Regions from separate parts of the Homo sapiens genome. Here region 1 is linked to region 2. The links come from fine-mapping of genetic effects on gene expression. Tissue or cell type: blood mononuclear cells. Region 2 holds a variant in brackets; the other region holds the start of a gene. All regions are shown on one strand. Distances are from middle to middle.

What was found.
Region 1: it holds the start of MAGEE1, and the variant in region 2 is fine-mapped to the expression of MAGEE1 in blood mononuclear cells (TOPMed, PIP above 0.99).

The regions. Positions count from the first base shown.
Region 1 is chrX:76,422,794-76,431,144 of GRCh38, forward strand. It overlaps MAGEE1 (MAGE family member E1), which reads left to right and starts at 4,917. Exons shown (of 1, transcript NM_020932.3): 1 at 4,917-8,351. The coding sequence starts at 5,138. The coding sequence ends at 8,011. RefSeq lists enhancers at 4,965-5,174, 5,645-5,774.
Region 2 is chrX:76,389,823-76,398,173 of GRCh38, forward strand. No RefSeq gene overlaps it. Among named protein-coding and RNA genes, the nearest start is that of MAGEE1, 34 kb to the right of the region's middle. The variant C/A (reference allele first, on the strand shown) is at 4,255.

The DNA.
Region 1 (8,351 bases), 33 kb after region 2:
AGTCCTGGCCATTTTGGGCTGATTGTTATAGAAATTATTGTTTATTTCCTTGAATTGTTACTAAAGATAAAAATTTGACATCCTACAAGTCTGACTTATAGCAGGCTAATGCTCTGGGCTGCTTACTGTAGTTAAGTGGGTTGGTTTCCTAGGCAAGTTGTTGAAGGTTGCGGGTCACTGTTCTACTTTTTATATATGGTCCAACCATTGTCCATTTGTACATTCAATCTTTCAGTATACATCCCACCATACAGGAGATAGAAACAATAATGAGAAGCCTGATATCAAAGCTAACCTGGGAAGAAACTTATTGGTGACATCACATTGCCACCTCTAAAGAGGTCACCCTTGAACTTATTCGAGCTATACAAATGGACTCCCTAGAAAAGTTTCCCTGGAATAAAAATGATGGAACAGGTGGCCTCCCACTAAAATTAGAACAACATCATCATAAACAGGGAAATAAATAGGCCAAATTTATAATATGATTGATGGTTATTTTTGAAATAATTTGCCCTACCTTTGAGGATCACATATGTGAGTACTCCACAGTTCAGAATCAAATTTGGTGCATGTATAAATTAATAACTTTTTAAAAACTGCCAAGAGATACTGTGAAGCTTACTCTAGACCCATGCAAACATTCTGATGCTATTTACTACTGGCAATCACCCGGAAACTCAAGCAAGGCACACCAATCCAAATAAGGAGGAACATTCATTTGCCTAAACCTGCAGATATCTTAAGTCACAGAAACACATATAATGACAAATTTAACTGCATGTTGGACTTGCTTCTGCCAATCTGATTCTAGCATTATGGATAGACAGGAACATGTAGCAAAGGGGTTATAATGTCACTCTACTGACTGAACAATTGAACAAATTAAAATCTGCTCCTTTTTCTAATCGATTCCCCTGGCTTTCCTCCATTACGTGGGCAGATTGGCTATGAAAGGGTTTTGAAATCCTTGTTTGTACCCTTATAGGATTCTGTCTCCTTTATTTCTGGCAAGAAACTTAGGCACTGCAAAATAACATACAATTTTAATTATAAGACAACATTGGGCCAGGGGATGGACTGTTATATGCATGAGCCAAAGATAGTCTCTATATATTGATTCTGCCAGTACCAAACTCAATTTTTTACACATCAATTGTTTTAAATATAGACCAATAAGTAGATTGTTAGCCATTTAGAGGCTGCCTTCTTTGCATGTCCCTGTGAAACTACAATCATCTGTTAGCTATAGATAGGATAAACTCCAGGAGATAAAAACCCTAACCTACTGCTGCCCTTCAGAGATCTCTGACCCAGCAACTCCCTGTCTTGCTGCTGAGAGACATCGCTACATGTATAAGCCATCTCTTTGATTCCCCTCCCTCTCTCCAGTTAGCTTGTCCTCTCATTTTCTAGGTTGTGACCTCCCACCAGCCTCTGGAAGATCTCAGACTTTGATTAACCCCATGCCCTTGCAAACCTGTCAAAGGGTTGACCAAATGAAACTCGTATGCTTATACACTGTTGGTGGGAATGTAAATTAGTAATAATAAACACTATATATAGTTCAACCACTATAGAAAGCAGTTTGGAGATTTCTCAAAGAACATAAAACACAACTACCATTCAATTCAGTAATCACATTATCGGGCATATATCCAGAAGAAAAGAAATCATTCAACCAAAAAGACACATACACTCATAGTTGTTTGCAGCCTTATTAACAAGAGCAATGACATGGAGTCAACTTAGGTGTCTATCACTGATATTTGCTAAAGAAAATGTGGTACATATATACCATGGAATACAACACAGCCATAAAAACTAATGAAATAATGTCCTTTGCAGCAACATGGATGCAGCTGAAGGCCATTATCCTAAGCGAATTTACACAGAAACAGAAAACCAAATACCATATGTTCTCATTTATAAGTTGGAGCTAAAGATTGGGTACTCATCAACATAAAGGTGGCAAAAACAGACACTGGAGGACTATTAGAAGGGGGAAGAAGAAAGGGGGTCATGGGTTGAAAAACTGTTGAGTATTATGCTCACTACCTGGGTGATGAGATCATCTGTTTTCCAAACCTCAGCATCATGCAATATACCCATATAACAAACCTGTGTATGTATCCCCAGAATCTAAAATAAAAGTTGAAATTCTAAAACAGACAAACAACAAAAACTCATTGTGTGTTACTGAAAACGTGTGGTAGTATATATTTTTCTTGATCAGTCCCCAAATCTCTTGCACTCACTTGTTTCCTATATTTTAATTCTACATATAAATTACACAAAACATATTATTATTATTGTTTTACATTGTCAATATGTCTGTTTACCCACATATTTATCCTTTCTATTACTGTTCGCTTCTTGCATCTCTTCAGTTTCAGAGGAGAACCTTTCAGTATTTCCTCAGTGTGGGTGTACTGGTGATCAATTTACTCAGCACTGATTTCTGAACATGTATTTATTTTGCCTTCATTTTTGATGTACTATTTCAGTAAGTTCAGAATTCCAAATTATCAGCTTACAAATCATTAAATTCCTTAAGTGACAAACTTGTATACAATGTAAGACTCACCTCTTTGCACTTCCCTTTTTTCTGAGATCATTACTCTTGAAGTCCTCATTGCCTTTATAGGTTTCTGATGCTATATTGGTAGCCTTTGTTGCCATAAAAGGGTTTCTTTACCTAAATTTCTGGGGTTTTTTTTCCGCAGGGCTGCTGCAATCAACTATACATTATTAGAAATGGAATTCTTTGATATCATTATAATGACTTACTGGTATTCCATTTTTAGTACCATAATTTCTTCAAATACTCTTTAGTTATTTAACATTCATTTAGTTTTCAGCTCTGTTATACTAGAACAAATTATATAATAAAAGTTATTTTAGCTAAATATTTGCACATATATCTTATTATTTCTTTAGAATATATTTCTAGAGGTAAAAATTTTTAGTTTATAGGTTTGAACAACTTCAGGGTCTTTAAAAATCACTGTACCCTAGGTTAGGAATATCTGTTGCTAAAGCTTAGAAATATCTTAGGTTTTTTTGTGCCTCCCATTCTGAATAGGCCCCAGGCATAAAAACTGCATTGGACTTCACAGAACCGAAACTGGTTATTCATATAAGGGATTGCTTCTCCAATTGGAGACAGAGATGGTGACACATTGTGACTGTAGCCAGTTATTTTCCCTTTCCTAAAGACGTATTAAAAAAAAGTATTGGAACCAACCCAAATGCCCATCAATGACAGACTGGATAAAGAAAACATGGCACATATACACCATGGAATACTATGCAATAAAAAAGGATGAGTTCATGTCCTTTGCAGGGGCATGGATGAAGCTGGAAACCATCATTCTCAGAAAATTAACACAAGAACAGGAAACCAAACACCACACGTTCTCACTCATAAGTGGGAATTGAACAATTACAACACATGGACACAGGGAGGGGAACATCACACACCAGGGCCTGTCAAGAGGTGGGGAGATAGGGGAGGGATAGCATTAGGAGAAATACCTAATGTAGATGATGGGTTGATGGGTGCAGCAAACCACCATGGCACGTGTATACCTAGGTAACAAATCTGCACATTCTGCACATGTACCCCAAAACTTAAAGTATAAAAAAAAAGAAAAAAAGACAAAAGTATACTCCCAGATTTTTGAGAAGATATAAAGAAAGACAACATATAATAAATGTTTGCAGCAAGATATAAACATATCAATAAAGGGTCAATAGTGGTAAGCTGAATTGTAGTGGTTGTGTGAGTGTCAGAAAGTTAGTGTTTTCCCTCTATCTCTCTTCCTCTCTCTCTCTCCCCTACTTCTAAAAACAGCCTGCCCGTCCTCTTCAGTGTTTTCTTTCTTACTCACTGCTGCCGTGCTACTCTCAGTTGGAATGATTTTCTCATCCTTGTCCTTTTGGTAAATATCTACCCACTCATCTTTTTAAACATCTCCTCTTTTATGAAGCCTTTTCTGCATCTACAGGTAGAACTGACCCTGCCATCCCCTGCATTCTTTACAAACTTCTAGAAAATTTAGCTTTACTTTTTCTCTGACTCCCATTTTTACATCGGGTGCTCCTTGATGACAAAGAGATTAACTGTAACTTCGGGATAGATGACCAGTGTTTGTTGAGTGAATGAATAAAGGGATCAGGGTTGGATCTGCTCAAAAGTGCTAGAGTAATAGAGCAAAACAGAGCAGGTAACACATCCCTTAACACTCGGTATCTCAACTGACTTTCACAAAAGCTCTATTAAATGAGCAGGTGATTGTGGAGTGAAAGAATTAAACAAATTTTCAAGAGTTTTAGTGGCTTTCCCACTAAAGCCTGGGTGACTGGGAAAGTTTGGGCTGGGAATGTTGGGCTTTTCAAGCGTGTTCGAAGCTCCCTAATTGGTACTAAATTTCAGGCATTCAGACCCTCTAGGAAAGAGTTCTTTCTAGCTCACAACATTAGGGGAGGAGTTAGACACATAAATGGAGAAAGTGATAGAAGAGACATGGTCAGGGATGGGGGTTCTACCCTTCCAGAGACAATGCACATTTTCTTTGAAACAGCTTCGGGAAAACTGCAAATCTCAATGATATTTACCAATTTTGAGAATCTATTAAGTGCCTGGCACTCTGTGTAGAAGCCCTCCAATCGTACCCTAAATCTGAGAAGTATTTATTATTATTTCCATTTTTACTCCCTAATGCATCTACTCTAAGCTCCTTGCTTCACCCTACCAAAGTTTCCCTTCTGCTAGTGCTCTCCTTTGGTGCAGAACCACCGCATCCACTTTCTCAGGCCCAGGGGAGGGGCGGGGCGGGGCGATTTCGCCTTGCCGCAGAGCCAGTCTGCGCCTGCGCGGACTGCGGCAGAGGGCGGGGTGTGAGAAGCAGAGTACAGTGAGACTAGCATTCACTGCTGGCCAGTGCCTGCCTTTTTCACCACCTCTAATTTCAGCTTCAGCAGTTGCTTGGAACTTTGGTTCTGGCAGCAGCAGCAACATCATTACCGCTAGCGGCAGTTTTGTGCCGAGGCACCTACACACCTCCCGTCCTCTCTGCCAGATCGCGGGCCTGTCGGTGTCTGCTCCTACACGCCAACGCCGGTGGGCAGGACCATGTCTCTGGTAAGCCAGAATTCGCGCCGCCGCCGCCGCCGCGTTGCAAAGGCTACTGCGCACAACAGCAGCTGGGGCGAAATGCAGGCCCCTAATGCCCCCGGTCTCCCCGCTGATGTGCCAGGCTCAGACGTCCCCCAGGGTCCCAGCGATTCCCAGATCCTCCAGGGCCTCTGCGCCTCTGAGGGCCCAAGCACCTCCGTTCTGCCCACCTCCGCTGAGGGCCCAAGCACCTTTGTGCCGCCCACCATCTCTGAGGCCTCAAGCGCCTCCGGGCAGCCCACCATCTCTGAGGGACCTGGCACCTCCGTGCTGCCCACCCCCAGTGAGGGCCTAAGCACCTCCGGGCCTCCCACCATCTCTAAGGGGCTGTGCACCTCTGTGACGCTTGCCGCCTCTGAGGGCCGGAACACCTCCAGGCCGCCCACTTCCTCTGAGGAACCTAGCACCTCCGTGCCGCCCACCGCCTCTGAGGTACCGAGCACCTCCCTGCCGCCCACCCCTGGTGAGGGAACGAGCACCTCCGTGCCGCCCACAGCCTATGAGGGACCAAGCACCTCCGTGGTGCCCACCCCTGATGAGGGACCAAGCACCTCCGTGCTGCCTACACCTGGTGAGGGACCAGGCACCTCCGTGCCGCTCGCCGCCACTGAGGGCCTGAGCACCTCCGTGCAGGCCACTCCTGATGAGGGACCGAGCACCTCCGTGCCGCCCACCGCCACTGAGGGCCTAAGCACCCCCGTGCCACCCACCCGTGATGAGGGACCGAGCACCTCCGTGCCGGCCACTCCTGGTGAGGGACCGAGCACCTCCGTGCTGCCCGCCGCCTCTGACGGACAAAGCATCTCCTTGGTGCCCACCCGCGGTAAGGGATCAAGCACCTCCGTGCCCCCCACCGCCACCGAGGGCCTGAGCACCTCCGTGCAGCCCACTGCTGGTGAGGGATCGAGCACCTCCGTGCCGCCCACCCCTGGTGGGGGACTGAGCACCTCCGTGCCGCCCACCGCCACTGAGGAGTTGAGCACCTCCGTGCCGCCCACTCCCGGTGAGGGACCAAGCACTTCCGTACTGCCAATCCCCGGTGAGGGACTGAGCACCTCTGTGCCGCCCACCGCCTCTGATGGATCGGACACCTCCGTGCCGCCCACTCCTGGTGAGGGCGCAAGCACCTTAGTGCAGCCCACCGCCCCTGACGGACCGGGAAGCTCCGTGCTGCCTAACCCTGGTGAGGGCCCGAGCACATTGTTTAGCTCTAGTGCTTCTGTGGACCGGAACCCCTCCAAGTGTTCCCTTGTTTTGCCAAGCCCTAGGGTAACCAAGGCCTCCGTGGACTCAGATTCTGAGGGTCCTAAGGGTGCAGAAGGCCCTATAGAATTCGAGGTCCTGAGAGACTGTGAGAGCCCCAACTCCATTAGTATTATGGGCCTCAATACTTCCCGGGTTGCAATTACCCTGAAGCCCCAAGACCCTATGGAACAGAACGTAGCTGAGCTGTTGCAGTTCCTGCTGGTGAAGGATCAGAGCAAGTACCCTATCCGGGAGTCTGAAATGCGGGAATATATTGTTAAAGAATATCGCAACCAGTTTCCTGAGATACTCAGGCGAGCAGCAGCCCACCTGGAGTGCATTTTTAGGTTTGAATTGAGAGAACTTGACCCTGAGGCACACACCTACATTCTGTTAAACAAACTGGGACCTGTGCCCTTTGAAGGGTTAGAAGAGAGCCCAAATGGGCCAAAGATGGGCCTCCTGATGATGATTCTAGGCCAAATATTCCTGAATGGCAACCAAGCCAAGGAGGCTGAGATTTGGGAAATGCTCTGGAGGATGGGGGTGCAGCGGGAAAGGAGGCTTTCCATTTTTGGGAACCCAAAGAGACTTCTGTCTGTGGAGTTTGTATGGCAGCGTTACTTAGACTACAGGCCAGTAACTGACTGTAAACCAGTGGAGTATGAGTTTTTCTGGGGCCCAAGATCCCACCTAGAAACCACCAAGATGAAAATTCTGAAGTTCATGGCGAAAATATATAACAAAGATCCTATGGATTGGCCAGAGAAATACAACGAAGCTCTGGAAGAAGATGCTGCCAGAGCCTTTGCTGAGGGTTGGCAGGCTCTCCCTCACTTTAGGAGGCCCTTTTTTGAGGAAGCTGCTGCAGAGGTACCATCCCCTGATTCAGAGGTTTCCAGCTATTCCTCAAAATATGCCCCACATTCATGGCCTGAGTCAAGATTGGAGAGCAAGGCAAGGAAGCTGGTGCAGTTATTTCTGCTTATGGATTCAACTAAGCTGCCTATACCAAAGAAAGGAATTCTGTACTACATTGGCCGAGAGTGCAGCAAAGTGTTCCCTGACCTCCTGAATCGTGCTGCCCGCACCCTGAACCATGTCTATGGGACAGAACTAGTGGTACTTGATCCCAGGAATCACTCCTATACTCTGTACAACCGAAGGGAGATGGAAGAAACTGAGGAGATCGTAGACAGTCCAAACAGGCCTGGCAACAACTTTTTGATGCAGGTCCTAAGCTTCATCTTTATTATGGGCAACCATGCCAGGGAGTCTGCAGTCTGGGCCTTTCTGCGGGGCTTAGGGGTTCAAGCTGGGAGAAAGCATGTGATTACCTGCAGATACTTGAGTCAGCGCTATATAGACAGTTTACGGGTTCCTGACAGTGATCCAGTGCAATATGAGTTTGTATGGGGTCCTAGAGCCCGTTTGGAAACCTCTAAGATGAAAGCCTTGCGATATGTGGCCAGAATCCACAGAAAGGAACCACAGGACTGGCCACAGCAGTACAGGGAGGCAATGGAAGATGAGGCCAATAGAGCTGATGTTGGGCACAGGCAAATCTTTGTTCACAACTTCAGGTAGAGGAATGCATGGCAGTCAGAGGGGCCTTGCAAGGAGGGGCCTTTGAGCCTCAGTTCTCATGTATTGGGGGGTGGGGGTGGGTACATATTGTATTTGGTATTTGTGTTCCAGTTATATTTATGTCTTTTCATATTTAGTTCTGGTGTGGTGTCTGGAAATGTTTCAACTGTTTTAATATATTGTCTGATTGGGTAAATGTGATTGACCACTTGCTGTCTCTGTTGTATTTTGGTATGAGTTTTGATAGCTCTATAAAATGTTTTGGAAATCTTTCCATCTTGTTGCATTATCTAGAAAAGAATATAGCATATAGCTATAGATATAGGCTTTTCCTTGAAAG
Region 2 (8,351 bases):
CAATATTGACTCTACTCATCCATGAGCATGGAATGTGTTTTCATTAGTGTGTGTCATTTATAATTTCTTTCAACCATGTTTTGTAGTTTTCTTTGTAGAGGTCTTTCACCTCCTTGATTAGGTATATTTCTAAGTACTTTTTTTTTTTTTTTTTGCAACTGTTGTAAAGCGGTTGAGTTCTTGTTTTGATTCACAGCTTGGTCGTTGGTGGCGTATAGCAGACTTGTGTACATTGATTTTTTATCCTGAAATTTTTATTTATCAGTTCTAGGAGCTTTTTAAATGTCTCTTTAGGGTTTTCTAGTTATATGATCATATCATCAGTGAGCAGCGATATTTTGACTTCTGTATTTATTTGGATGTCCTTCATTTCTTTCTCTTGTTTGATTATTCTGGCTAGGACTTCCAGTACTACGTTGAATAGAAGTGGTGAGAGTGGGCATACTTGCATTGTTCCAGTTCTCAGGGGGAATGCTTCCAACATTTCTCTGTTCGATATAATATTGGCTATGGGTTTGTCATAGATGGCTTTTATTACATTGAGATATGTCCCTTTTATGCCGATTTTTCTGAGAGTTTTAATCATAAATGGATGCTGGATTTTGTCAAATGCTTTTTCAGTATCTATAGACATAATAATGTTATTTTTGTTTTTAATTTTGTTTATGTGGTGTATCACATTTATTGACATGAGTATGCTAAACCATCCCTGCATCCCTGGTATTAGACCCACTTGATCATGATGTATTATCTTTTTGATATGCTGTTGGATTTGGTGAGCTGGTATTTTGTTGAGGACTTCTGCATTGATGTTTCTCATGGATAGTGGTCTGTCATTTTATTTTTTATGGCCTTTCCTGGTTTTGATATTAGGGTGACACTGACTTCGTAGAATAATATAGATAGGATTCCTTCTTTCTCTATCTTTTGGAATAGTTTCTATAAGACTGGTACCAATTCTTCTTTGAATGTCTGATAGAACTCAGCTGTAAATCCATCTGGTCTTGGATTTTGTTGTTTACAATTTTTTTTATTACTGTTTCAGTCCTGCTACTTGTTATTGGTCTGTTCAGAGATTTTATTTCTGCCTGACTTAATCAAGTAGGGTTGCATATTTCCAGGAATTTATTCATCTTTTTTAGGTTTTCTAGTTTGTGTGCATAAATGTGTTCCTAGTAGCTTTGGGTGATTTTTTCTATTTCTGTGGTATCATTTGTAATATCTTCCATTTTATTTCTAATGGAGCTTATTTGGATCTCCTCTCTTCTTTTCTTGGTTAATCTCACTAATGGCGTATCAATTTTGTTTATCTTTTGAAGGAACCCCCTCTTTCTTTCGTTTATCTATGGTAATATCTTTTTTGTTTCAATTTCATGTAGTCCTGATCTTTGTTATTTATTTTCTTCTGCTGGGTTTCAGTTTGGTTTTTCTTGTTTCTCTAGTTCCTTGAGGTGTGAGCTTAGATTGTCTATTTGTACTCTTTGAGACTATTTGATATAGGCATTTAATCCAATGAACTTTTCTCTTAACATTGCTTTTGCTGTATTCTGGAGATTTTGATAAGTTGTGTAACTGTTCTTGTGCATTTCAGAGAATTCTTAAATTTCCATTTTGATTTTATTGTTGATCAAAATATCATTAAAAGGCAGATTGTTTGATTTCTGTATATTTGTATAGCTTTGAGGGTTCCTTTTGAAGTTAATTTCCAGTTTCATTCTACTGTGGTCTGAGGATACTTGATATAATTCTGATTTTCTTTTTTCCTTTTTTTTATTATGCTTTAGGTTCTAGGGTACAGGTGCACAATATGCAGGTAAGTTACATATGTATACTTGTGCCATGTTGGTGTGCTGCACCCATTAACTCGTCATTTAACATTAGGTATGTCTCCTAATGCTATCCCTCCCTCTCCTCCTACCTCACAACAGGCCCCGGTGTGTGATATTCCCCTTCCTGTGTCCATGCGTCCTCATTGTTCAGTTCCCACATATGAGTGAGAACATGCGGTGTTTGGTTTTCTGTCCTTACGATAGTTTGCTGAAAATGATGGTTTCCAGTTTCATCCATGTCACTACAAAGGACATGAACTCATCATTTTTTATGGCTGCATAGTATTCCATGGTGTATATGTGCCACATTTTCTTAATCCAGTCTGCCATTGTTGGATATTTGGATTCATTCCAAGTCTTTGCTATTGTGAATGGTGCTGCAATAAACATAGGTGTGCATGTGTCTTTATAGCAGCATGTTTTATAATCTTTGGGTATATACCCAGTAATGGGATGGCTGGGTCAAATGGTATTTCAAGTTCTAGATCCCTGAGGAATCGCCACACTGACTTCAACAATGGTTGAACTAGTTTACAGTCTCACCAGCAGTGTAAAAGTGTTCCTATTTCTCCACATCCTCTCCAGCACCTGTTGTTTCCTGACTTTTTAATGACCACCTTTCTAACTGGTGTGAGATGGTATCTCACTGTGGTTTTGATTTGCATTTGTCTGACGGCCAGTGATGATGAGCAGTTTTTCATGTGTCCTTTGGCTGCATAAATGTCTTCTTTTGAGAAGTGTCTGTTCATATCCTTTGCCCACTTTTTGATAGGGTTGTTTCTTTCTTGTAAATTTGTTTCAGTTCATTGTAGATTCTGGATATTAGCCCTTTCTCAGATGAGGAGATTGCAAAAATTTTCTCCCATTCTGTAGGTTGCCTGTTCACTCTGATGGTAGTTGCTTTTGCTGTGCAGAAGCTCTTTAGTTTGATTAGATCCCACTTATCAATTTTGGCTTTTGTTGCCATTGCTTTTGGTGTTTTAGACATGAAGTCCTTTCCCATGCCTATGTCCTGAATGGTATTGCTTAGGTTTTCTTCTAGGGTTTTTATGGTTTTAGGTCTGACATTTAAGTCTTTAATCCGTCTTGAATTCATTTTTTATAAGGTGTAAGGAAGGGATCCAGTTTCAGCTTTCTACATATGGCTAGCCAGTTTTCCCAGCACCATTTATTAAATAGGGAATCCTTTCCCCATTGCTTGTTTTTGTCAGGTTTGTCAAAGTCAGATGGTTGTAGATATGCAGCATTATTTCTGAGGGCTCTTTCCTGTTCCATTGGTCTATATCTCTGTTTTGGTTCCAGTACCATGTTGTTTTGGTTACTGCAGCCCTGTAGTATAGCTTGAAGTCAGGTAGCGTGATGCCTCCAGCTTTGTTCTTTTGGCTTAGGATTGACTTGGCAATGCGGGCTCTTTTATGGTTCCATATGAACTTTAGTTTTTTCCAATTCTGTGAAGAAAGTAATTGGTAGCTTGATGGGGATGGCACTGAATCTACAAATTACCTTGATCAGTATGGCCATTTTCATGATATTGATTTCTTCTTACCCAAGAGCATGGAATGGTCTTCCATTTGTTTGTATCCTCTTTGATTTCATTGAGCAGTGGTTCGTAGTTCTCCTTGAAGAGGTCCTTCACAGCCCTTGTAAGTTGGATTCTTAGGTATTTTATTCTCTTTGAAGCAATTGTGAATGGGAGTTCACTCATGATTTGGCTCTCTGTCTGTTATTGGTGTATAAGAATGCTTGTGATTTTTGCACATTGATTTTGTATCCTGAGACTTTGCTGAAGTTGCCTATCAGCTTAAGGAGACTTTGGGTTGAGACGATGGAGTTTGCTAGATATACAATCATGTCATCTGCAAACAGGGACAATTTGACTTCCTCTTTTCCTAATTGAATACATTTTATTTCCTTCTCCTGCCTGACTGCCCTGGCCAGAACATCCAACACTATGTTGAATAGGAGTGGTGAGAGAGGGCATCCCTGTCTTGTGCCAGTTTTCAAAGGGAATGCTTCCAGTTTTTGTCCATTCAGTACGATATTGGCTGTGGGTTTGTCATAGATAGCTCTTATTATTTTGAGATACATCCCATCAATACCTTATTTATTGAGAGTTTTTAGCACGAAGGGTTGTTGAATTTTCTCAAAGGCATTTTCTGCATCTATTGAAATAATTATGTGGTTTTGTCATTGGTTCTGTTTATATGCTGGATTACATTTATTGATTTGCGTATGTTGAACCAGCCTTGCATCCCAGGGATGAAACCCACTTGATCATGGTGGATAAGCTTTTTGATGTGCTGCTGGATTCGGTTTGCCAGTATTTTATTGAGGATTTTTGCATCAATGTTCATCAGGGATATTGGTCTAAAATTCTCTTTTTTTGTTGTGTCTCTTCCAGGCTTTGGTATCAGGATGATGCTGG[C/A]CTCATAAAATGAGTTAGGGAGGATTCCCTCTTTTTCTATTGATGGTAATAATTTCAGAAGGAATGGTACCAGCTCCTCCTTGTACCTCTGGTAGAATTCGGCTGTGAATCCATCTGGTCCTGGACTGTTTTTGGGTGGTAAGCTATTAACTATTCCCTCAATTTCAGAGCCTGTTATTGTTGTATTCAGAGATTCAACTTCTTCCTGGTTTAGTCTTGGGAGAGTGTGTGTCGAGGAATTTATCCATTTCTTGTGGATTTTCTAGTTTATTTGCATAGAGGTGTTTATAGTATTCTCTGATGGTAGTTTGTATTTCTGTGGGATTGTTGGTGATATCCCCCTTATCATTTTTTATTGTGTCTATTTGATTCTTCTCTCTTTTCTTCTTTATTAGTCTTGCTAGTGATCTATCAATGTTGTTGATCTTTTCAAAAAACCATCTCCTGGATTCATTGATTTTTTGAAGGGTTTTTGTGTCTCTATTTCCTTCACTTCTGCTCTGGTATCGGTTGTTCCTTTCCATGTTTAGTGCTTCCTTCAAGAGCTCTTTTAGGGCAGGCCTGGTGGTGACAAAATCTCTCAGCATTTGCTTGTCTGTAAAGTATTTGATTTCTCCTTCACTTATGAAGCTTAGTTTGGCTGGATATGAAATTCTGGGTTGAAAATTCTTTTCTTTAAGAATGTTGAATATTGGCCCCCACTCTCTTCTGGCTTGTAGAGTTTCTGCCGAGAGATCCACTGTTAGTCTCATGGACTTCCCTTTGTGGGTAACCCGACTTTTCTCTCTGGCTGCCCTTAACATTTTTTCCTTCATTTCAACTTTGGTGAATCTGACAATTATGTGTCTCAGAGTTGCTCCTCTCGAGGAATATCTTTGTGGCATTCTCTGTATTTCCTGAATCTGAATGTTGGCCTGCCTTGTTAGATTGAGGAAGTTCTCCTGGGTAATATCCTGCAGAGTGTTTTCCAAGTTGGTTCCTTTCTCCCCGTCACTTTCAGGTACACCAGTCAGATGTAGATTTGGTCTTTTCACGTAGTCCCATATTTCTTGGAGGCTTTGTTCATTTCTTTTTATTCTTTTTTCTCTAAAGTACTCTTCTCACTTTATTTCATTCATTTCATCTTCCATCACTGATACCCTTTCTTCCAGTTGATCAAATCATCTACTGAGGCTTGTGCATGCATTATGTAGTTCTCATGCCATGGTTTTCAGCTCCATCAGGTCCCTTAAGGACGTCTCTGCATTGGTTATTCTAGTTAGCCATTCGTCTAATTTTTTTTCAAGGTTTTTAACTTCTTTGCCATGGATTTGTACTTCCTCCTTTAGCTTGGAGTAGTCTGATCATCTGAAGCTTTCTTCTCTCAACTCGTCACAGTCATTCTCCATCCAGCTTTGTTCCATTGCTGGTGAGGAGCTGCATTCCTTTGGAGGAGGAGAGGTGTTCCGATTTTTAGAGTTTCCAGTTTTTGTGCTCTGTTTTTTCCCCATCTTTGTGGTTTTATCTACCTTTGGTCTTTGATGATGGTGACGTACAGATGGGGTTTTGGTGTGGATGTCCTTTCTGTTTGTTAGTTTTTCTTCTAACAGTCAGAACCCTCAGCTGCAGGTGTGTTGGAGTTTGCCAGAGGTCCACTCTAGACCCTGTTTGCCTGGGTATCACCAGCGGAGGCTGCAGAACAGCTGATATTGGTGAACAGCAAATGTTCCTGCCTGATCATTCCTCTGGAAGTTTTGTCTCAGAGGAGTACCTAGCCGTGTGAGGTGTCAGTCTGCCCCTACTGGGGGATGCCTCCCAGTTAGGCTATTCAGGGGTCAGGGACCCACTTGAAGAGGCAGTCTGTCCGTTCTCAGATCTCCAGCTGTGTCCTGGGAGAACCACTACTCTCTTCACTGCTGTCAGACAGGGACATTTAAGTCTGCAGAGGTTTCTGCTGCCTTTTATTTGGCTATGCCCTACCCCCAGAGGTGGAGTCTACAGAGGCAGGCAAGCCTCCTTGAGCTGCAGTGTGCTCCACCCAGTTCGAGCTTCTCAGCTATTTTGTTTACCTATTGAAGCCTTGCAATGGCAGGTGCCCCTCCCCCAGCCTTGCTGCCGCCTTCCAGTTTGATCTCAGACTGCTGTGCTAGCAATGATTGAGGTTCTGTGGGTGTAGGACCCTCCCAGCCATGCACGGGATATAATCTCCTGGTGTGCCATTTGCTAAGACCATTGGAAAAGCACAGTATTAGGGTGGGAGTGACCCGATTTTCCAGGTGCCATCTCTCACCCCTTTCTTTGACTAGGAAAGGGAATTTCCTGACCCCTTGTGCTTCCCGGGTAAGGTGATAACTCGCCCTGCTTCGGCTCATGCTCAGTGCACTGCACCCACTGTCCTGTACCCACTTTCCGACACTCCCCAGTGAGATGAACCCGGTACCTCAGTTGGAAATGCAGAAATCACCTGTCTTCTGCATCGCTCATGCTGGGAGCTGTAGACTGGAGCTGTTCCTATTTGGCCACCTTGGCTCCACACTCCAGGTTGTTTCAATTGCCATTGTTTTAAAACCCATGTCAGGCTGAGCACGGTAACTCATACCTGTAATCCCACTGCTTTGGGAGACCAAGGTGGGAGGATTGCTGGAATGTCAGGAGTTTGAGACAAGCCGGAGCAACATAGTGATACCTAATCTCTATAAAAGTATTAAAAATTAGCTGGGCATGGTGACATAACATGCACCTGTAATTTCAGCTACTCAGGAGGCTGAAGTGGGAGGATTGCCTGAGCCCTGGAGTTCAAGGTTACTCTGATCTGTGGTAATGTAACTGCACTCCAGCCTGGGCAACAGAGAGAAACTGTGTCTCTTTAAAAAAAAAAAACCCATTGTCTTTCTGTGTAACCCATTTAAATAAATAAAAGCCCATGTCTTTCTGTGTGAACTGTTTCCAGGAAGATAGGGTAGGCCAAAAAGTTAAGCATTGTTTTCTTTGAGATACTGTCTTACTCTGTCACCTAGACTAGAGTACAGTAGCACCATCATGGCCCACTGCAATCTCTGCCTCCCATACTCAAGCAATCCTCCAACCTCAACCACTGGAATAGCTTGCACTACAGGTACACACCACCATGCCTGGCTGGTTTATTTTTGTAGAGGCAAGGTTTTGCCCTGCTGCCCAGGATGGTCTTGAACCCCTTAGTTCAAGATATCCTCTGTTCTCAGCCTCCCAAAGTGCTAGGATTACAGGCATGAGCCACCATGCCTGGCCAGCAATGTTATTTTGTAATGCCTACATTTGCACTTGCTTTACAGTGAAGTGGAAGCTTTGTTTTTACTGTGTAACTTGTGTTATTCCCAAAGAATATAAAAGCTGTTTTGTTAACCACCCAATAACATCAGCAGAGGTTGGTGTTTTGTATTGGTAATCCAATAAAAAGCCTGTAGAAGTATACATAATTGCTAAGGCATATTCAATGGTTCCTGCCACTTGCAGAGAGAGAACCAATGAAATTGTTTTCCAAGTTTTGATTGACCCTTCTATTTAAATTTATCTTTCCATAAGGTAGGCCTAGTGTCCAGATTATTCGAGTGTAGTACAGTTCTTGGTAGCTTTATGTGAATGTCTCTTTGCTGTAGCCACTCCTCTTAATCCATTTTTAAACCCCATCATATCCAAATGCCCTGATGTCTCTTGTGCCCACTGGTAGAAGCATTGAAGGGTTCATATCAAAGTTCTAGGAACACCCTGTCCTTCAAGATATTTACCTGCTTTGGTGGTTTTGTTAGTTTATTGGCTTTTTGCACTTTATACCACCTCCTCTGTGTCTTGTCTGTTGTGAGTCAAGGTATGGTACACAAATATGGGAAGAGTGGGAGCCAATGGTGAAATTTATTCCCATCTCTCTACCCCCAATGTCTTGGCCCTGTTTTTAAAGCCCTGATTTTGCCAAAGTCCTGACCAAATAATTAGCCCATTAGCTGCAAAGCGGGAGTTGATCAAAACATAAACCTTAGGAGAATGTTTCTCAAGGGCATACTCTGTGTCTAGTAGTATCGTGAACAGCTTAGCCTATTAAGCACTTTGTTCTATCCCCTGCATTGAATTTGGAATGTTTTAAT